2 separate regions of the Homo sapiens genome follow, and region 1 is linked to region 2. A link means that fine-mapping ties the variant in region 2 to the expression of a gene that starts in the linked region. Tissue or cell type: lung. Region 2 holds a variant in brackets; the other region holds the start of a gene. All regions are shown on one strand. Distances are between the middles of the regions.

The links. PIP is the estimated chance that this variant, and not a neighbour inherited with it, causes the effect.
Region 1: SLC9A7 starts here. The variant in region 2 is fine-mapped to the expression of SLC9A7 in lung (TOPMed, PIP 0.93).

What each region holds. Positions count from the first base shown.
Region 1 is chrX:46,755,352-46,763,532 of GRCh38, forward strand. SLC9A7 (solute carrier family 9 member A7) reads right to left here and starts at 3,767. Exons shown (of 17, transcript NM_001257291.2): 1 at 3,354-3,767. The coding sequence starts at 3,678. RefSeq lists silencers at 3,539-3,678, 3,699-4,048.
Region 2 is chrX:46,714,551-46,722,731 of GRCh38, forward strand. The region is part of intron 1 of SLC9A7 (solute carrier family 9 member A7); the gene reads right to left. Among named protein-coding and RNA genes, the nearest start is that of SLC9A7, 40 kb to the right of the region's middle. The variant A/G (reference allele first, on the strand shown) is at 3,463.

The DNA.
Region 1 (8,181 bases), 41 kb after region 2:
AGGGAGGGAGAGAGAGAGAGAAATCTCTTCCCCTTTCCCCATTTTATCTCCATCCCAGACACAGGGCTCAGAAAAGCTCCAAGGGCACAATTAAGAATTGAAAAGTCATGAAGAAAATTGATAACATAATGTGATTTAAATAGGGAGAAGTAGGCGTCAAATTGAGTGATTTGAGGAGCACGTTAAAATGCTATTACAGCCGGGTGCGGTGGCTCACACCTGTAATCCCAGCACTTTGGGAGGCTGAGGTGGGTGGAGGTCAGGAGTTCAAGACCAGCCTGGCCAAGATGGTGAAACCCAATCTCTACTAAAAATACAAAATTTAGCCGGGCATGGTGGCGGGCGCCTGTAATCCCAGCTACTCAGGAGGCTGAGATGAAGAATTGCTTGAATCCGGGAGGTGGAGTTTGCAGTGAGCCGAGATTGCGCTACTGCATTCAAGCCTGGGCGACAGAGTGAGACTCCGTCTTGGAAAAAAAAAAAAAAAAAAGCTATTACAAGACCAAGAAGCATACAAGGTTATATGGTGACCTCTCCCTCCCACTCCTATTTCACAGCCATCTAGTTCCTCTCCCCCAAGGAAACCAATGTTACTCATCTATTGCATGTCCTTCCAGAGATATTTTACGACTATACCAACAAATATATAAATTTATATATATATAAATTTATCTTAAATGTAAACGCTGTTCTTCTCAGATTAAAGTGTCACTTAAACACAAAAAGGTGGCAGAAATTACATTTTAAAACTTTTTCTCAAAATAAAGAGTTTTGAAATTCACAGTTGAACTCTTTCATTCATAAACATTTAAAAGTTAAATTGTTTGCCTCCAGAAATTAAGTTGGGTTCCCAGCACACAGTGGATACTTTAAAAATGTTTCCTTAGGTCTTTTTGTCGTTCCTTATTCAGAGCCAAGAGGACAATTACTCACTTCCTCTATTGATATAGAGAAATCAAATTTTATTTTTTACTATTAAAAAAGAGAAGTCTTGAAAAATCTTTACTGGATTTACTTGTGTTCAAAGATTTGCTTGACAGTAGTAATCATTTCATTGTGTTTATCAAAACATCATGTTGTACATCTTAAATGCAGACAATTTTTTAAAAGATTTGCAAACTGAATTTTAAGATCAGTTTAAAATCCCCATCCCAATAGTCTTCAGTATACTATGAATAATTAGCTAATCACATGACATTAGAATTCAGATTAGGGGGACCTTGCAGTAGAAGACCAAACATACCTGAGAGAAAGAAGAAATGTTTTCTCACAATTACAGACAGTCCTTAAAATATTAATATTTGGCATAACCTGAGACATCACATATTGACAAACTAAATTTCTTTATACATTTAAAGAAACACTAATACTCAAAGATATAGAACAAAATTACACAGGAATGCTGAGATGATATTGCCTTTTCTGAACAGCCATCAGTTACACTAGATTTGTAACTTGATTGTTCACAAAATAAAACAGTACACTGTAGCACAACCAAATGGCTGAAAGATGGAGGTGAGTTTTAAAAGTACGTATCAGCAAAGGAAAATTCCACTGTTGTCTTTAAGCCTTAAGATAAAGGTGATTGAACTCCTCAGAACACGGAGTACTCTCCAGAAAATATATTTTCAAATCCCCATTTATTTTCCATCCCTTGAGCATGTGTTTACGAATCTGACAAATCTACCTCCTATTTCACATTGTCCTTTAAGAAACTGGGTCTAGGGCCTATTAAATAAAAATATTTTCACGGTTATCTATATAAAGGCAATTTTCATTTGCATCATGGCTTGGAGTCAATCACCTGCAATGACCACGTGCTTCAATTCCCCCCTGTCTGTCTTCTCAGGAAACCTCCCAGCTTACCTGCAGGCCTGGCATCAGTCATTTATCACCAACTGACACAAACCACAGAGCTCAACAACGGTCAGGGATGGAGGCCAAAGTCTGTGTTGAGACCTATAATTCGCAATCACCAAACTCGGTTTTAGACCTGGTCCTGTTTCAAGATCTGTGTAGGTCACTACTTCATCAAAACTGGAGGGCTCTTAACAGCGCTTGCCCCTTACACGGTTTGGCTGCGAGGGCCTGGTGGCCATGAGCCCCGGCTGTCAACAACTAATCAAGAAACATGAGAAGCAAGGCCCAGAACCAAGGGTAATTTTCACATTAAAGGTTAAGGTTTCTGCTTTCCATTCTCTATCAGGGCACCTGGATGGAAACTGAATAAAGAAATCCCTCAGTATATGTGATAAAATAAAATTTTCCCCGTTGGGAACAATCATGAAGTGGCTCGTCTATTTCGTGTGAGGATGCCAATTCAGGGGCTTTAACACCACTGAATTACATTCAAAAAGAGAATACCTGACTCCACTTTGGAGTCATGGGCAGGGCGAGGGGGGAGGCAGGGGGCACAGAAGAGGAAGAGGGATGACTCAGATTATGGCTGACATCCATGTAATAAAGGGAGATTTGTACTGACCACTGTGCATGTAACACACTGTGTACCATTAAATCTAGAAAAGGATGGTAGCATCAGCCCACCCCTAACAACAAAAGATGGCTGACTCCGGAATTAAAACCACGACTTTTCCCCTTCATACATTCGGAAATGTATCTCAAACTCACTCCCTGTTACCGTCTTAGGAATACAAAAGCTCCTCTTCGTTTGAGAAAGCAAGTAACTGGGTATAACTTTCCACTCGGGACATAAGAGCAGGAGGCGTGCCTGTCTCCTCGTCCAGGCCTGACATGGTGGTGCCACCCACTCTGGGTCCTGGACCACTGCTCACCTTTCACCACACTTCATGCTCTGACTTTATCATTAAGAGACCTGGGAATGTGGACCTCAGGAGTGGGTACCCACCCAGGCTGACCATGGATGTGGCGTCCAAGAGGCCCCACTAACCCATACCCAAGCAAAGACACTTTCAGACTTCGTCCCCACTCCCTACTGTGGCCTGTCCCCTGAGGTGATGCAGTCACCTGGGAAGCCACCCACCTCCAGCCACCACGCAGGCACACACACCCTATCGAGCTCAACTGGAGCGGGAGGTGGTGGGTAAGAGGTTTGCAACAGAGACCGAACGGGGCAGACGGAACCGGACCACCTCTGTCCCTTTCATTTTCCTGGGTTCCCAATGCAGAAACGTGGAATAGGGGTGGAATTGTTTTTAACGGTAGCAGAGAGCCAGAAAATGCAGACAGTTGACCTTGGGAACCAACACCGTCGCAGCGGGAAACGTAAAAGAAACGGAACACGTTGGCAAGTGAAGGGGGAGCACCGCGCGGCGCCAGGAGGAGCGCGGCGGCCGAGGGGTGTGGAGGGCGGGGGGTGTAACAGGGGTGCTCACCATAGATCATGGCCAGCCCGGTCTCGTGCAGAAAGCGCACCCGGCGGTGCTTGAAGAGCCAGATGGTGAGGATGGTGAGCGTGAGCAGCAGGATGAAGGTGAGCAGGCTCACGCTGTCTTGCCGGTGGCTCTCCTCCGCCTCCTTCTCAGTAGCGAGCTCCTCCATGGCGCTGCTGTCCTCCGCCGCCGCCCCAGAGGAGGAGGCCGAGGCCGCGGCCGCGACTCGCAGCCCCCAACCCAGCAGCAGCGGCAGCAGCAGCAGCCGCGGCGGCGGCGCCCCGGTAGCCCGACCCGAGCCAGGGCGCGCCGCGTCACCAGGCTCCATGGTCCCGGGGCCCCCCGCGCCTCCTCCGAGCGGGGACCAGCAGCCCGCGCCGTCGGCGGGTTCTGGCAGCACCGCGGACCTGCCGGAGTGGCCGTGGCCGCTGCAGCTCCTCCTCCTACTCGCGCCGGGCCGGGGCTGCGCCCGGGGCCGCGCGGGGGAGGGGCGCGCGCAGTGCGCAGGATCCCCAAGCACCGCCCCCCGCCCGCGCACCTGTTCGTCCCCCGGCCGCGCCACGCCGCACCGCCCCGCGGGCCAACCGAGCCACCCAGGCGGGGCCGGGTGTTGCCCTCGGGTCTGCGGGCCGGCCGCCGGCTGCTTGCCTCTCTGCGCTTCTCACCCCGTCCTGGCGCACCTGCCCAGGCAGTCTGGGGTCGTGGGGCCAGTTCATGGGCAGCCGCCGCCGCACTTCCGAAAGGGGACGCCAGAGGTCGCCGGCGCCTAGCGGGAGCATCGGCTTGGAGTGACTAGCCTTGCGGTCTCGAGTCCCGTCTCTGGCGCCACGGCGAAGTGTTTAATCTCAGGCCAGTGTGCAGCCGCCCTGGGCCCAGTAAAGTGGGGGCTGTCAGTGAACCGAGCAGCCCCGAAGCCACGTTAGCCCCTACACCTCTCTTTCCTCATCTCTCAGGTTGCCCTTCCAGCCCCAGAATCTGCTAGGTTTCATTCAAACCTCTGTTCTCATCAGACTCAAATGTGAGGACTGATAAGGAGTTGGAATCGGGGGAGGGCATTGAAGTATCTCCTTCCTCACTTGAGGGAATAGACTTCGTCTGCGCTGTGCTACTAATCCCCTTGGGGAATAGGGTTGAACCAGAAGGAACTGAACGCTTGCCATTCCTGGTAGATGAGCAGTAGCTGGTCCTAAGGTGGTGGTGGGGGGTGGGGGTTACCCTGATGACCCTTTCTTTTATGTTGCTCACCTGGTAGCTCAGAGAGTCTTTTAATGACTCTTAAGACCAAACCCAGCTCTGAACAAAATTATGGCGTGGACTCTGAAGGATGAAGCCTCTTGGAACAAATTCTCAGGAAAACTAGAATCTTCAATCCACCTTGCTCCTCTGGTCAAGGAAGAAACAAGATCAGATTAATCACTGAGTTCCCAGTGCTTAGCACTGTACTCATGTGTTTATTGAACCACTCTGAAATCTCTACCAAAACTGCCCATGTTTTCGCTCCCAGGGGAGTTTGCATTTTTAAGAGGATTCATTGAAGAAGGTGATGCTTAACCAAATGAAATAATAGGGTAGAGGTAGCATTAGGTAAGAAAACTCTTTGGAGTACTGCAGCCTTCCTGGTTCCCCTGTAGGTGAGCACTCTGCCAAAGCTGTTTAGTGGTTTCTTTAAAGCAGGGAAATCTCTTCATCTACATTTTAGCTAGCCCCTTTCCCAACTCCTCTAGGCAGTCACTCAGCCCCTGCAAACATCCGTATACCTTGAAGTTCCACACAGGTTTCCAATAAAATTGCAAATACTTAAAACCTGGATGGGCACTGTGTTGGTCATAATATTATGCCCCTTTGGGTGCCCAGTACTCAAGGACAGAATTTCTCTCTTTAGAAAAGGGCAACTCAGGAGCTACCTTAAAAGTACAGACTTCTTAGTATTTGTGGCGGATTGTATTTTTTAAAAAGATGGCCACAATCATATTTCCAATCCCAGAACCTTACCATCCCCCATCAAGAAGGGGCATCTATGTTCCCTCCCCTTGAACCTCAGTGGACCTTTGTGACTCCCTCAAAGAATATAATGTGGTAATGGAGATTATGTGATTTGTGAGGCTAGGTCATAAAAGGTAATCTAGCTCCTGCCTGTTTCATTCTGTCACTTTCCACTCTAGCTAGGCTGGGCACGGTGGCTCACGCCTGTAATCCCAGCACTTTGGGAGGCCAAGGCGGGCGGATCACCTGAGGTCAGGAGTTCAAGACCAGCCTGACCAACATGGCAAAACCCTGTCTCCACTAAAAATACAAAAATTAGCCGGGTGTGGTGGTGTGTGCCTGTAATCCCAGCTACTTGGGAGGTGGTGGCACGAGAATCACTTGAACCTGGGAGGCAGAGGTTGCAGTGAGCCAAGATTGCACCACTGCACTCCAGCCTGAGTGACAGAGTGAGACCCTGCCTCCAAAAACAAAAAAACAAACAAACAGACAAAGAAATCTAGCTACCTGGAAGCTGACATACTGAAGAAACCATGTAGAGAGACCATGTAGCAATAGAGGTAGATGCCACAGGAGACCCAACTTTTTGAGTGTTCCCAGCCCAAATGCCACACATGTGAATGAATGAGTCTTCAAATCAATTCATTCCCAGCCACCATCTTACTGTAGACATATGAGAGGCCCCAAGCAAGAACCATGTCGCTGAACCTAACCAACATCTGCAACTGTAGCATAATAAAATGATTGGTGTTATTTTAAGCTACTAAGTTTGAGGGTGGTTTCTTCCACAGCAATAGATAACCAGAAGAGTATTTATTATGTAAAGTAGTTCCCTTGGGTAGAGTATGAAAAGACTAGTCCCAACCATTCACAAATACACACCAAAGAAAACACTCCATTATCTCTACATATTTATGTGTGAAAACTAACCTATATAATACAGGAGTTCTGATTTCAGTTAACACAGAATAATCACACTAAACCCATTACCTGCTACTGAATACAGCTATAAAATGTGAACAGAATGCATGCAGCAACTATTTGAGGACTCTGGAAAGTAAATTGTACCACATAAACTGAGGAAAAACAACAGAATTTGAAGTAAAACTGAACTGGCGGTGAGTTTACCATTTTTTTCCTCCAGTCTCCACTAGACTGGACTCAAGGCAGCTTAACACCCGGAAGGGAGCATCAACATGGACAGAGAGAGCTCCAGGAAAAGCAGAAAATTGGTCTCCTAATATTCAGAGAAAGTAGGAGAAATGTGCCATTTTTTTTCTTTTCTCCATTCTCTTACATTTTAGCCAATAAGCAATCCCACTGTGGCACCTCAGTCAACAGTGACAATGGAGACAGCAATACCTTCAAGCACCCAAAAAATGCTAAGGGAGGGGAGAACCTTCCTCTCTGTTTGAAGTAGCTCTGGTCCCAAGACAGTGGGGCCAAAACCTCAATGATATATATTTTTTCACTCTCTCTGTCCTGATGCTTGGCCCAAGACATGGGCAAAGTTTCAGGAAATACATAACAGAGAGGATTAAATAAAGACCCAGATTTCTGGACAGGCACAGTGGCTCACCCCTGTAATCCCAACATTTTGGGAGGCTGAGGTGAGTGGATTTGTTGAGGCCAGGAGTTGGAGAACAGCCTGGGCAATGTAGCAAGACCCTGTCTCTATGAAACATTTAAAAATAAAATTAGCTGGGCACTGTAGTGCTTGCCTGTAGTCTTGGCTACTCAAGAGGCTAAGGTGGGAGGCTCACTTGAGCTCAGGAGTTCGAGGCTACAGTGAGCTATGATCACACCACTGTACTCCAGCCTGGGCGACAGAGCGAGACCCTGTCTTTAAATAAATTAAATAGTCTAGATTTCTTGCCAATTGATTAAAAGGGGAACTCCAAGGCATTACAAAGTACCAAGGAGACAGTAGAGAGGAGAGGACCTTGGGAAAGGTCCTCATAAAGTTTTTATGAACTCCTAGGTTCACCCCAACCTGCACATGGATCTGATCCTAAACAGCATACCAAAGACTGTGATAACTGAACTAAGAGGCAGACCACCACCCAAGCCCTAGACTAGCCACTGGATAAAACACATGTAGGACAGATCTGAATAGCATTACAAACTTTTGAAAACTGAATTGACTTTGGAGCCACTATCCACAAAAGGCATGTCAGAACTTGTGATCTAAACCCAAGCATGTCTATTACAAACTAAAACAAAAATATGAATATTTCCCCATAGTATTAAAACAAGATACAAAGTCCTATAACATAATATTCAAAATGTCCAGGATACAACCCAAAATTATTCAATACCTGAAGAACCATGAAAATCTTAACTTGGGTGGGAAAAGGCAAACAACAGACACCACTGCTGAGGTGACACCAATGTTGGAATTATCTGAAAAAGACTTTAAAGCAGCTATTATAATGATGCTCCAACAAGTAAGGACAAATAATCTTGAAATGAATGTAAGGATAAAAGGCTCAGCACAGGAGTAAAAGATAAAAGAAGAACCAAATTGAAATTTTAGGCTGGGCACAGTGGCTCACACCTGTAATCCCAGCACTTTGGGAAGCCAAAGCGGGTAGATCACAAGGTCAGGAGTTCCAGACCAGCCTGGCCAACATGGTGAAACCCCATCTCTACTAAAAATACAGAAATTCACTGGGCATGGTGGCATGTGCCTGTAATCCCAGCTACTGGGAGGCTGAGGCAGGAGAATAACTTGAACCTGGGAGGTGGAGTTTGCAGTGAACTGAGATCGCACCACTGCGCTCCAGCCTGGGTGACAGAGTGACACTCCATCTCAAAAAAAAAAAAAAAAATTTTATAAGTGAAGAAT
Region 2 (8,181 bases):
TCCATACTTATGGACAACACATATATTTTTTGAGATCCCCGACAAATATTTTTTGAGATCCCCGACAAATATTTTTTGAGATCCTACTATGTCCCAGGCACTGTTCTAGTGTTTGGAGATATATGTCAGTGAACGAAACAAATACAAATTCCTGCTTTTCTGGACTTCGTTATATTTCTAATAAGGGAAGAAACATAAGAAACAAAATAAGTAGATTACATGGTATGTTAGAATACGGTAGGTGCTATGGCTAAAAATAAGGCAGGGAAAGGGTTAAGGAGTGTAGTGTGGAGTAGAGGATTGTGAGTTTAGAAAGAACCAATAGAAATCCTGGAAAAGAAAAACATGACCTTAGCATTTTTATTTCATTTTCAAGTTCAACAGCAGACTAGACACAGTAAAGAGAGAACTGGCAAACTAGAAGATAAATTTGTTGAAAGAGATTCATTCATCAAGCAAATTAATACTTATTGAGCATGTACTATATATCAGACATTGCGCTAGATTAAATTATTCCATCTTGACAAAATTCCTTTCCACTTGGATTATGTTCCCAGGTTTAATTTCAACTCTTTAAGACCCTACCCAAGCTCCTTACTCACATTGATATCTCATTTCTCTCAATAAGTATCCTAAAAATAATTTTTAAAGAATTTTTAAAGTATTTATTTATATCACAGATTAGTCCAGTTCTTAAATTATTCCCTCCCTAACTAGACTGTAAATTCCTTGAGGATCAGACCTATAGGTAAGATTTCTTTTCTATTTCACATGTGGAATAGCACAGTAACAGGCATACAGTAGGCATTCAATAAACACTTGACTGATTTGGTATATTTTTGGGTCCCTATAACTGAACAGCTTTTTCTTTGTAATGGCTCAGTTACAGTTAGTTCCTGGAAATGGTCACAAAATTGTTAATAACTACATTATGATTCACTGATCCCAAAAATATGAGTCCAGTGGTATAAGGTTAAATTCTGAATCTAATCAAATTTTTGCGAATGTGCCCTCATTCTCGGTTAGTTGAAAATGACAAATGTCGCACAGAGTGTATTTTTCAGTCTTGAGAAGCCTTATACATGCCCTCTGACTTAGAATTGACTTACAATTTTTCCCCTTTAAGATGGTGCAAAAGCGATACACATTCAGTAGAAACTGAACTTTGAGTATCCATACAACCATTCTGTTTTCACTTTCAGTATGGTATTCAATAAATTATGAGCTATTCAACACTTTATTATGAAACAGGCATTGTGTTAGATGATATTGCCCAATTGCAGGCTAATGTAAGTGTTCTGAGCACATTTTCGGTCAGCTGGGCTAAGCTATGATGTTTGGTAGGTAAGGTGCATTAAATGCATTTTCAAATTGCAATATTTTAAACTTATGATGGCTTTATCAGGACATAACTCCATCATAAGTCAAGGAACATCTGTACATTACTTAATTTTATTTCTGGCAAAAGTCCTTAAGGCAGGCAGTGCACATATAGACAGCCCCTGACTTATAATAGTAATCTTATTTTATAAATCAAGATGTTGAAGTCTAGAGATATTAAGTGGTCTGCTCAAGTGAAGATGGGTACTGAAGACTGAAGGAGTGACTCAGACCTGAGACTTCTAGATCCCAGTCCAATGCTCAGATGCATAAACCTAGATGCATGATATATCATTAAGGGGATAAGTGGTAAGGTGAGAATTTGCAGGGCCTTAGAGGGCTCTGACTTGGTAAAGATATGCTTATTTTGAGCACGCAAATAGAAACCAGCCAGTTTCTTTATTAAAAAGAGAAGAAACAAACATTGATAAACCAAGAAAGGAATCCCTATTGCCTGCCTTAATTCAATAAACATTCAGCCACTGGATGCTATGAACCCTGAGACGACTTAGGCAGGATCCTCTTCAGTAAGACCAGAAGCTCTAGCACACAGCACAAATGCTGCAACAGACACAGGTGCTACAAAAGCACAGAGGGGAAGGAATTTCCTTGCCCAAGTCTGTTCTCAAATTCCCACTCACTCACCCCCTAAAACACTTTAAATATAGAATCATGCAGACTCTATGGCTATCATAAATGTACTGACTCTTCTGGTTTAAAATATCCATTGTAACCATTAGCAAATTGGAGATCTAACTGATTTATACCCAAACAAGAAGGGACGATTCTGATATCAATAGGCAAATAGTACCCAAGTGGCTTTAAAACCTTATTTGAAGCTATTTTGATCATAATGTGTTTCTTTTTATTTATTTATTTTTTCCTGTTTCTGATTCTAGTTCCCTGCTGTTTGGGGAAGGGGAAACCACCTTGTACTGAAGTCACTTGGCTTCTGGATAAAGCCAGAACTCTGACCAAAACGATAAAGGCTGCCCAGGACAGAAATGAAACAAAAAATCCTAGCCCTACTTCTCCATTGTGGACACCTGGTCTCATGAGTTATGGCAACACGCATCCACCAGAATAACCGCATTTTCCTAAAGAAATTGTGAAATAATTGGGAAGGGGGTGTCCCATTCTTGAGTAAGTAATCAGCATTGCAGACAAGAACTATGTCATAAAAACCAAAGTTGAAATTGTGTTACATATTCCTGGAAAATACTCAAAAGGTGCTCTGAGTTCTATAAGATGGACAGATACATTATACATACTAATTATACCAAAGGTCAGGTGATTAGAAATGCCACATTGTACCACAAAAATCACCCTGATACTTGTGTTAATTTTTCTTGTATTTGTGTAATAAAGTGTTTTGAAGTTTTTAAGAGAAAATTACTGCACAAGGAGCAGTCATCTTCTTAAATGTCCCAAAAAATACTGATGTAGGGTCATCCAAAATCTTTTTTTTGAGACACAGTCTGCTCTGTGGCCCAGGCTGGAGTGCAGTGGCACAATCTCAGCTCACTGCAACCTCCACCTCTGGGGTTCAAGCGATTCTCCTGCCTCAGCCTCCTGAGAAGCTGGAATTACACATGTGCGCCACTGTACCTGGCTAATTTTTGTATTTTTAGTAGAGATGGGGCTTCATCATGTTGGCAAGGCTGGTCTCGAACTCCTAACCTCAAGTGATCCACCCATCTCAGCCTCCCAAAGTGCTAGGATTACAGGTGTGAGCCACCATGCCTGGCCCCAATCTTTATTCATTTCAGAAACATACTTTAAATATTTATCCAACTGCAACTTTCAAGGGCTGTGAAAGACCTCTTAAAGGAGAACTACAAACCACTGCTCAATGAAATAAAAGAGGACACAAACAAATGGAAGAACATTCCATGCTCATGGATAGGAAGAATCAATATCATGAAAATGGCCATACTGCCCAAGGTAATTCATAGATTCAATGCCACCCCCAATCAAGCTACCAATGACTTTCTTCACAGAATTGGAAAAAACTACTTTAAAGTTCATATGAAACCAAAAACGAGCCCACATTGCCAAGACAATCCTAAGCCAAAAGAACAA[A/G]GCTGGAGGCATCACGCTACCTGACTTCAAACTATACTACAAAGCTACAGTAACCAAAACAGCAGGGTACTGGTACCAAAACAGAGATAAAGACCAATGGAACAGAACAGAGCCCTCAGAAATAATACCACACATACACAACCATCTGATCTTTGACAAACCTGACGAAAACAAGAAATGGGGAAAGGATTCCCTATTTAATAAATGGTGCTGGGAAAACTGGCTAGCCATATGTAGAAAGCTGAAACTGGATCCCTTCCTTACACCTTATACAAAAATTAATTCAAGATGGATTAAAGACTTAAATGTTAGACCTAAAACCATTAAAACCCTAGAAGAAAACCTAGGCAATACCATTCAGGACACAGGCCTGGGCAAGGACTTCATGTCTAAAACACCAAAAGCAATGGCAACAAAAGCCAAAATTGACAAATGGGATCTAATTAAACTAAAGAGCTTCTGCACAGCAAAAGAAACCACCATCAGAGTGAACAGGCAACCTACAGAATGGGAGAAGATTTTTACAATCTACCTATCTGACAAAGGGCTAATATCCAGAATCTACAAAGAACTTAACAAATTTACAAGAAAAAATCAAACAACCCCATCAATAAGTGGGTGAAGGATATGAACAGACACTTCTCAAAAGAAGACATTTATGCAGCCAACAGACACATGAAAAAATGCTCATCATCACTGGCCATCAGAGAAATGCAAATCAAAACCACAATGAGATACCATGTCACACCAGTTAGAATGGCGATCATTAAAAAGTCAGGAAACATCAGGTGCTGGAGAGGATGTGGAGAAACAGGAACACTTTTACACTGTTGGTGGGACTGTAAACTAGTTCAACCATTGTGGAAGACAGTGTGGTGATTCCTCAAGGATCTAGAACTAGATATACCATTTGACCCAGCCATCCCATTACTGGGTATATACCCAAAGGATTATAAATCATGCTGCTATAAAGACACATGCACACATATGTTTATTGTGGCACTATTCACAATAGCAGACTTGGAGCCAACCCAAATGTCCATCAATGATAGACTGGATTAAGAAAATGTGGCACATATACACCATGGAACACTATGCAGCCATAAAAAGGATGAGTTCCTATCCTTTGTAGGGACATGGATGAAGCTAGAAACCATCATTCTGAGCAAACTATCACAAGGACAGAAAACCAAACACTGCATATTCTCACTGATAGGTGGGAATTGAACAATGAGAACACTTGGACACAGGGTGGGGAACATCACACACCGGGGCCTGTCGTGGGGTGGGGGGAGGGGGAAGGGATAGCATTAGGAGATACACCTAACGTAAATGACGAGTTAATGGGTGCGGCACACCAACATGGCACATGTATACATATGTAACAAACCTGCACATTGTACACATGTACCCTAGAACTTAAAGTATAATAAAAAAAATTTATCCAACTGACTAAAATGGGTTAAACTAAAAACACAAAACCAGTTAATATATGAGCATAATAAATAAAATAAATAAAAGAGCACAACAAAAATAATAATTTTAAAAGTTGTTTGAGGAAAACCATAGAAAATAAGCTTAAAACTTTGTGCTTCTTGCTGACAAGAACAAAATAGAAAACACTAGAACAAACATAGGTTTCCTACTCTAGCTTAAGGTTTGATAACTCAAAAAAATATTTTGTTGGTCTTGTGCTCTAAGAAGAAACTATCTCAGGGTTTTGTGGAAATTAGGGGGAGGGGGCCACGAAGGTCAATAGCCTTAATAACATTTTTCTCCTAAATGTGAAGGCATTCCATATATGAGTAGCTCTAAGAGAAAACTAAAGACATAAAGTTAGTTTGGTTCTATAAGGGCAATTCCAGGAGTGAAAGGCTGAAGGGCACAATAACATGGTCTAATCTGTCATTTCCTGATGTTTTGACTTAAATTGTTTTTTGAGAAACTAGTAAGTAATATATTCCTTAAGAACATTCCTCTCTCAAATACCAAAATTTTCAGCCAGCCTTCTGACAAGAACAAGATGAACAACAAACATGATTAAGGTCATTACTGAGGACCTCAATAGCTGGTAACATAAAAGATCTATAGGCTACATCTTCCAGGTATGTTGGTTGTAATGATACTTGTTATGAAAAAGAAATCAAAGATCTTGACCTGCATATTCTTGTCTGCTGAAGAGAAGTTCTATAATCACAAACAAGACTTTCCTCAGAAACTAACTTTGGTTCTAGGACTTGAGCAATTATTTGATTCAAGCATAAAAACTTAGTGCCACTGAGTAGCACCTCATCACACCCATATCCTGTCCTTTCCCACTCCTGCCAACTCTACTTCTCAAGTATTTTCCTGATCACCCCCTCTTCTCCTTATTATCATTACTCTGGTTCAAGCTCCCTGACTGGATTTTCTGCAGTCGTTTCTTAACTATCCCCCCTGCTTCTCCCCTGATTCCCCAATCATTCCTTCTCCATCAGCCACCAGACTAATTTCTCTGAATCACAAATGAGGCTAGTCACGCCATGACCCTGCTTAAAATTATTCAGCAGCTTCATCATCCATGGGAAAAAAAAAAATCCAAGCTCCTTAACATGGCATTCAAGGCCCACAAAGCACTGGCACCTGCCAATTTCACTTCCCACTGCCATCTGCCCCTACACATAAACACTCATATTCAACTCCTCAGAATTCCCCACATACACCTTGCATCCTCCTCTACCTGGCATTATTGTCCTCCAAGACCTCCCTCACAGCCGTGGCAGAGAAGAGAAAAGAAGGGGACCCTAGCTGATGGAACTGATCATCCAAATAACTCCTGAAGATCACTGAGATGATATAACAAAGCAAAACCACCTACGTTTTTAGACTGCCAAGACTATATCCTGAATTTCCAGAATAAAACCTCTCAAAAAAGTGATAAAGCATCACATGAGTGGATGTTAAACGTAAGGCCTCACAGTACAACAAAATCTAAACTTAAGAACAAACAGGCTGAACAAAGGACTTCAAATCGGCATGCCCACAAAAGGATCGCCTCTGGTCCTTATACATATAACTACATTAATAATGATTTAAAACATTTTTTCTTACTGCAATTATCTTTATGGTCCTTTTTGAAAATATAATTTGATTTAAGGTGATCTTACAAAATTCCAGGGAATAATTCTTATTCTTAATAAAGTTTAATAGTCTGTTGAGATTCAAGTGTTCCAATAGGTATGGTTCTTTCCACTTCTAAAATTAAATCACTTAATGAGAATTGCCAGAAAGAGACTTCATTAGTAATTATCCATAATGGTAGAGAACACACAAGATACATTTGCACTGTTCTATTGTTATAAGCCAGCAGAAGAGTGGAATTTTCAAAGATGCAAATAGTTCCCCTCGGTCATATTACCCTGGATAGAAATTAGAGCTGCAAGCTAATAGGAGACTGAGGGACAAGGGCATGCTCCTCAGCCTGTGGTTTCTCTGGCTTCCAAAGCTAGAAGCAAATGATTCTTTTTTTTTTTCCAATCCATCCATTAAGCTTCCAAGAAATAAACACGTTTGCTTCAAAATTCAATTCCCTGTGGGGTTATCTTCAGATGCTGCATGGGTTTATTAGAATTAATTGCAACACAGCACAGCTTCCAAAGTGAAGGCCCAGGGTTGACAAAAGACCCTCCCTATCACAGCCACCAACCCACCAAAGGCTATGGGGACTCTCTTGCAAACAATATCTGAGCAATCTCGAGGAAGACAAGCAAAGGCCTTGCCTTTCTCAACTTCAGTCTAGAGCAGGTAGGGAGGGGTAGCCCATAAATGAGTAAACAAAGAGAAAAGATGATTACGTATTGTGCTAAGTGCAGTTAGTGAAGGCAGTCGGCGATGTTTGTCAGCAAGATGCATTTTTTTCCATTTTGCTTCCCACATCTGCAATCAACATATAACTTCATGGTATGAACTATTAAACACATAAACACTAGAACAAATGTGGGTTTCCTATTCCAGTTCAAGGCTTGATAAGTCAAAAAACTATTTTGATGGTCCTGGGTTCTAAAAAAACACTGTTTCTCTCTGGTGGGTGTGTGTGTGGGTGTGGGGGTGTGTGTGTGTGTAAGGGCGAGTAGTGAGTACTAGGGTCAACAACAGCCTTAATAGCACGTTGCCCCCAAATACAAAGGTGTTCCACATATAAGTAGCTATGAATGTGGGTTTCAAAACAAAAGCCTTAACTTAGAGTTTTATTATGTTTTAAAATCATCACTGTCTTAGTGTTTAAACACCTGTTTAAGTCCTCTTAATAAGGTAGAAATGCCTGTTTATGGCTTTTTAAAAATATAAACACAAGGATCCATAGCTTTAAAAAAAACACTTTGTTTCTGTGACAATGTTTGTTAATCTAGCTAATTGAGTTACTTGCAGAAAAATGGGGAACAGAGAGTGATAGTTGAGTTCTTCATGTACAAGTAAGCACTGTTACTCCAAATACCTTAGTTACCTGAATTATTCTAAGGTTATTTGTAAAAACTAAAATTCCACGAGGCAAAGAAGGACTTTTATCAATCCCATTTATATTTGATTTCTGTATTACACATAAAGAATTGGACTATTAAAGAAAGTAACCAAATGAGAGATGGATGTTTAAAAATAACATTAAATGAGTGATTTGGGAACTCCAAAACTTTATGTGACCAAGTTATTTCTTCTCTGTGCCTACAGGTCTTTGTCACACTG